Regions from separate parts of the Homo sapiens genome. Here region 2 is linked to region 1. Evidence: fine-mapped expression QTL. A gene starts in region 1. The other region holds a variant in brackets. All regions are shown on one strand. Distances are between the middles of the regions.

Evidence for each region. PIP is the estimated chance that this variant, and not a neighbour inherited with it, causes the effect.
Region 2: its variant is the best candidate, but not a certain one, in a credible set for the expression of LETM1 in cerebellar hemisphere (GTEx, PIP 0.82).

Annotation. Positions count from the first base shown.
Region 1 is chr4:1,854,862-1,857,752 of GRCh38, reverse strand. LETM1 (leucine zipper and EF-hand containing transmembrane protein 1) reads left to right here and starts at 1,597. Exons shown (of 14, transcript NM_012318.3): 1 at 1,597-1,884. The coding sequence starts at 1,803. RefSeq lists enhancers at 1-511, 1,181-1,250, 1,888-2,389 and silencers at 781-1,000, 1,401-1,960, 1,971-2,160.
Region 2 is chr4:1,821,176-1,824,066 of GRCh38, reverse strand. It overlaps LETM1 (leucine zipper and EF-hand containing transmembrane protein 1), which reads left to right. Exons shown (of 14, transcript NM_012318.3): 8 at 292-423; 9 at 936-1,079; 10 at 1,755-1,886. Among named protein-coding and RNA genes, the nearest start is that of FGFR3, 29 kb to the right of the region's middle. The variant C/T (reference allele first, on the strand shown) is at 1,722.

The DNA of each region.
Region 1 (2,891 bases):
TTCTCCCACTGAGATGGGGAATTCAAGCCCATCCAGGCCCAGTACCTGGCAGTTCCTGATGGGGAAAACCACCCAGGCAAGCAGGCTACGTTTTCCTGACGGGTGAGGACCGACTGCATGGACAGCAGGGGCAGAGGGGACCCTGGGGAGGGAGCCTCCTAGGGAGATGTGCCATTCAACCAGCCTCTCAAGACTGGGGAGCTGGCTGGCATCAGGCGTTTCACACCCCATGCGCTCCAGGGAACAGAGATGCTGAGTGTGCACTACAAGACCCTCCCCAGGCGGTGCCCTGAGGTGCCGCGGAGAAGCAGGAGGAGGCAGGTTACATCCCTGAACAAGACAGAGGGCAGGGCAAGTGCTGTGCTGGGGATCTCCTAGCTGGAGATCTCCACCAGCTGGGCCCCCAGCGCCGCAGGTCCCCATTTTTCTCCCTGCCTGCTTTCTCTGCCCCAACTCAGGGATCCTCATCTTAGGGAAGGAAGGGGAAGGTGGAGCTCAGAGGTCACGGTCTGCTGGGAGGCTGCACGGTCTCTCTCCCCTGGACTGGTCAGGGCCGGCTATTAAACTGGGCTGGGGGGAGGCTCCTGGGAGACGGCGCATGAGCGGTCCGCGAGCCCAGCCCAGCTCTGGCGGGAATTCTGGAGACTTCGAGCCAGGTCCTTGGCGTCCTGGGCTTCGGCTGTTCCTTCTTGGACTGGGAAGTGGAGCGGACAGGGTATGGCCCAGGTTAGGAAGTCTGGCGCTCTTGCGGCGCGCGGGACCCCAGGGGCTGCTTAGGCCAGAGCGAAACGAGGGGTCCCCCCGCGCCAACGCAGGACCCATATCTACCCCTCCCGCTCAGACGGGAGGACGCGGTGTGCCGGGATGGGGGGCCGCTATGCTGGCTGCGCCGCCACCCGGCCTAGTGCCCTCGCCTCCAGGGGCCGGCATGGCCCTGTCCTTCGGGGCGGGACCCTGCGCTCCCGTCCCCCCAGTGGTGACGGGGACTCCCGACGCCGAGCAGCGCCGTATCTGGGGAGCGCCGCCCGGTACGCAGGGAAGAGGCACTCAGAGCTGCGCGCGCCAGAGTGCAGACCGCCGAGGGCAGAGCCACAGAGCAGGGGGGCCGGCGAGGGACCGCGGCCGAGGGCGTCGAGGGCGCCCCTCCATCCCCAGCGTCCCCTGACTTGCCCTTGGAGCCCCAAGCTCCCAGGAGCCGTTTTCTACTCGTGGGTGCAGGACTTAGTCCCAGAAAAGTTCCGGACACACGCGCTGCTGCCGCCGCCCGGAGACGAAAAGACACTCCCCGCGCAAGCGCGGCCGACTCCCTCAGCTCCTGCGGCCGCCACGCTGCGAGCCCCGGCGTCCACGGTACGACGGGAACCAGGATGCAGCGAGCCCCAGGAGCCAGCCGCCCCGGTGCACGCCGGGACCGGTAGTCCGCGCCTCAGGGTAGTCCGCCGCTCCGGTGCACGCCGGGATCGGTAGTCCGCACCCCAGCGTGCAGGCCGTCCCGGTGCACGCCGGAACCGGTAGTCCGCGGTGGCGCGGTCCGCCCCTCACCTGGCCAGCGGCGGGCGCTGAGGGGCCCAATGGGAGCCGCGGCCTGGCCGCCCCGCCCCGCGCCTCCGGACGTCTGTGCCGGGACAAGGCCGCCGCTGGTGCCGGGTCCTTGAGGAGAGCGCCTCCCGTCCGAGGCCAGCCGCCTCTGTCAGCCGTCCGCGCGGGCCGGGTCTGAAGCGCCGCCGGGACGGCGAAGAGCCGCGGCCGCCGCGGAGAAGGAGGCAGCGCAGGAGGCCGGAGCGGCCGCCGCGCCCGAGCACATGGCGTCCATCTTACTGAGGAGCTGCCGCGGCCGGGCGCCCGCCCGCCTCCCGCCGCCGCCTCGGTACACCGTCCCGCGGGGTAAGCGGCGGGCACCCCAGGGCGGGGCCGGCTCCCGGCTGGTGGGTCGGGAGCGCGGACGACCCGCGGGTTCGGGCTGGTTGTCACGGCGATGCGGGGAGCCCGGTGGTCCCGGCCTCCGGAGCCCCTGCGGGACCGTGGGGCCCCGGGTCTCGTCGCGGGCTGGGCCGCCAGCGCCGGGCGGAGCCGCTGGGCCTCTGCCGTGTGTTGTGACCTTAGGCGGCCGGGTCCCCCGGGTCACTGCCTCAGAGACAGTGGGAAAATTCTGAAGGGCTGGGCAGCCCTGGCGCGCCCTGCGCGAGTAAGCTTGGTGGAACGTGTCCACGCACGAGGACGGCCGTGCCCTTTGGTCACGTTTGGGGTCCCGGAGACGAGACTGGGTGGGCAGGGCAGACACCGGCGAGCAGGACCTGCTGGGCTGCAGGAGCCTTCCTGGTCCGTCACTGATGAGGTGATGCCAGCACCTACAAACCCCTGTGGTGTGATTAGGCCGCGACCGGCACCCGGGGAACACGGGGACTCCGGAGCCGCTGAGGGTCCTCAGGGTGCGTGGCTTTAGCCCCCCTAGCCTCAGGTGCTGTCTGGAGTGAATGCTGTCCCAGGGTGTGCCCACCTCCTCTCTCTCTCTAATTAACCAACTTATTTGAGTCTATGTCCTTATTTGTAAAATTGGAATAAACATAAAACTTGCTAAGAGGGACTCAAGTAAAATAATTAGTGCAGTGGTGCGATCATACTCACTGCACCTCAAACTCCTGGGCTCAAGCTATCCTTCTGCCTCAGCCTCCCAAGTTGTTAGTTGTGCCACACAACACCCAGCTAATTTTTTTTTTTGTAGTTTTTTTGTAGAGACAGGGTCTTGGTATGTTGCCCAGCCTGGTCTTGAACTCCAAGGCTCAACTGATCCTCCTGCTTTGGCCTCCCAAAGTGCTGGGATTACAGGAGCCACCATGCCCAGGCACCCAGCTTCAATATTCTTGTCTCTGTTCCCCACCCCCAAAGAGATA
Region 2 (2,891 bases), 34 kb after region 1:
ACAGGCGTGAGCCACCGCGCCCGGCCCCTGGGGTGTTTTTAAGTGAAGAGTTGGTGCCCTGTTCTGAGGCCCTTGGGGTCCTCGCTGTGGGGGTTGCTGACCCCCAAGCCTCTCTGGTGTTTTGTTTACTAACGCCGTCATCGGGTCACGCAGCACAGCAACAAACAGACCTTGTAGAACTTGAGACACTGTCTTCTCTGAGAGCTATTCTGGTGATGAGATGGGCGGACCTGCTGTGGGGCCAGCAGGGTTGGGGGGCTGCCCATCTGCTGAACCTGGCCTTGGTTGCAGTGGCTGGACCTGCACCTGCATCAGGAGATCCCCACATCGCTGCTCATCCTGTCCCGGGCCATGTACCTCCCGGACACCCTCTCTCCAGCCGACCAGCTCAAGTCCACACTGCAGACCCTCCCAGAGATTGTGGTACGTGCTGTCGGAGACCCCTTTTACCTCATCTCTTCATAGGTGGCTCCGCTCTTCTGGGGTGGGGGGAGGTGTGCAAGCGCACTCATTCCTCAACCATGGGCGAGGAGCCTGCCTCCCACCCCCTCGCGAGTGCCCCCACCCAGCCACCTGTCCCCTTCCTTCCATCCCTCCTCACCAGCCCCTTGCCTGCCATCCCCCGTGTGGCACAGTTGCCAGTGGTCCCGACCTGGCCACGTGTTGGCTGCTGTGGATCTGGGCCGCGGCCCTTGGAGCTGTGTCAGCAGCGCCTATGCTCCTTCCCACATGTCAGGAGTCATCGGGCGAGCGCAGAGGGCGGCCCAGGGGCCTCCCAGCAATTGCGGGCAGCACCTCGGCAGTGCCTTCTGTCCTGTGTGTGTGAAGCCCAGGTGGTGACGGGGCAGGGGACACAGGACACAGGACAGAGGTGAGGGGCAGCAGGGGCCTCTGGTGGCTTCTGGGCTCACCCACAGATGTACCCTCTTCTGAAGGCAAAGGAAGCACAGGTGAAAGTGGCCGAGGTGGAGGGCGAGCAGGTGGACAACAAGGCCAAGCTGGAGGCCACGCTGCAGGAGGAGGCGGCCATCCAGCAGGAGCACCGTGAGAAGGAGCTGCAGAAGCGCTCGGAGGTGGCGGTAAGCGGTGGTCCTGCTCCGTGCCGCGTGGGGCTGTCCTGAGCCAGCCTCCCTAGAAACCCCCGCACGCCCACAGTCTTGGCCTCCCGCATGCTTGCCCTGCAGCTCTGTCCTGCATGTTTATTTCCTCCTGGAGTGGTCAGGGAGGCAGGGTGCCCGGGTGTGAGGGCTGCAACTCTGACATGGGGACTCCCCGATGGCCACAGTGGTGCTCATGGGAGATATACCTTAGCCGTCTCAGAGGGGCAAGCTTAGCATATGGCAGTGCCCACCCTCTCCTCAGGGACTTGCTGTGAGGGGCGCTGGCAGAGGAGCTGCAGGCTCCCCCAGCCTCTGGGCTCCTCTTCAACGCGGGCCCTGTGGTCCTCTTGGGTCACATGCATGGTGCCCACCCACAGGCTCAGCCTCCTGCTCTGCAAGTGACAGGGCAGCTTGGGGGAGTCTTGGGGAGACCAGAGATGGATAAGGTGCTCTAGCCTGTTCTGGAGAGGGCCCCAGGTGACCTGGCAGCTGCATGGAGCCTCCCTAGGGACCTTCTGTGGCAGGTGTGCTGCCCAATGTCACCTGCAGGCCTGCTCCCAGTGTGGCCTCTGCCATATGTTCTGAGCTTCGGGGAGCAAGAAGACTGCTTCTGTGTGATGG[C/T]GGGCGCTGGGCTGGTGTCGCCTTGCCTTTCAGAAGGATTTTGAGCCCGAACGTGTGGTAGCTGCTCCCCAAAGGCCGGGGACCGAGCCACAGCCAGAAATGCCTGACACAGTCCTGCAGTCAGAGACCTTGAAGGACACTGCCCCGGTGCTGGAGGGCTTGAAGGTAATGAGGCAGGTTCTGGGGCCCTGGAGGCTGAGGAGGGCATGGCCTGGCTTTGTGGACAGTTGTGGGGCAGGGATGGGGACAGGTTAGCTGGGGCATCTATAGCCCTCAGTGAGAGGAGATGGTGCAAGGGGTTGAGGATGAGGCCACTGGGCCCCTAGGAGGCTTGGTGGTTAGGAAAAGAGTGAGTCCGGCCGGGCTCCGCACTGTGCCTGGGTGCACAGCAGCTGACGCTGCCGTGAACTTAGCACCCTGGCCCACAGTGTGGCAGGTAGAGATGCCAGTCGGCAGGTTTCAGGGCCCTTTGCCAGCTTGCCCAGACAGTGAAGGGGTGTGGAAGCCAATGTGGCCCCTCAAGGTAGAGCCTCCTCCACAGGCCCAACCTGCTGTCACCTCCTGTGGGGTGATCTGGGCTTGGAGCATCTTCAGACTCCCCATGCGAGCCTGTGAGGTGCAGCCTCCAGGCGCCTGTGCTGCCTACCTGGGGCGCCTCCTGGTACCTTCCATCTTGAACTCGCGGGCTGAAGTGCAGTGGCGCCATCTCGGCTCAGTGCAGTCTCAGCCTCCCAGGTTCAAGCAACTCTTCTGCCTCAGCCTCCCAATATCTGGGAGTACAGGCGTGCACCACCAGACCCAGCAAATTTTTGTATTTTTAGTAGACAGGGGGTTTCACCATGTTAGCCAGGCTGGTCTCAAACCCCTGACCTCAAGTGATCTTCCCGCCTCAGCCTCCCAAAGTGCTAGGATTACAGGTGTGAGCCACCACACCCAGCCATAAAAAAAAAATTTGGCCAGGCGCAGTGGCTCACGCCTGTAATCCCAGCATTTTGGGAGGCCGAGGTGGGCGGATCACGGGGTCAGGAGATCGAGACCATCCTGGCTAACATGGTGAAACCCCATTTCTACTAAAAATACAAAAAATTAGCCAGACATGGTGGCATGCACCTGTAGTCCCAGCTACTCAGGAGGCTGAAACAGGAGAATGGTGTGAACCTGGGAGGCAGA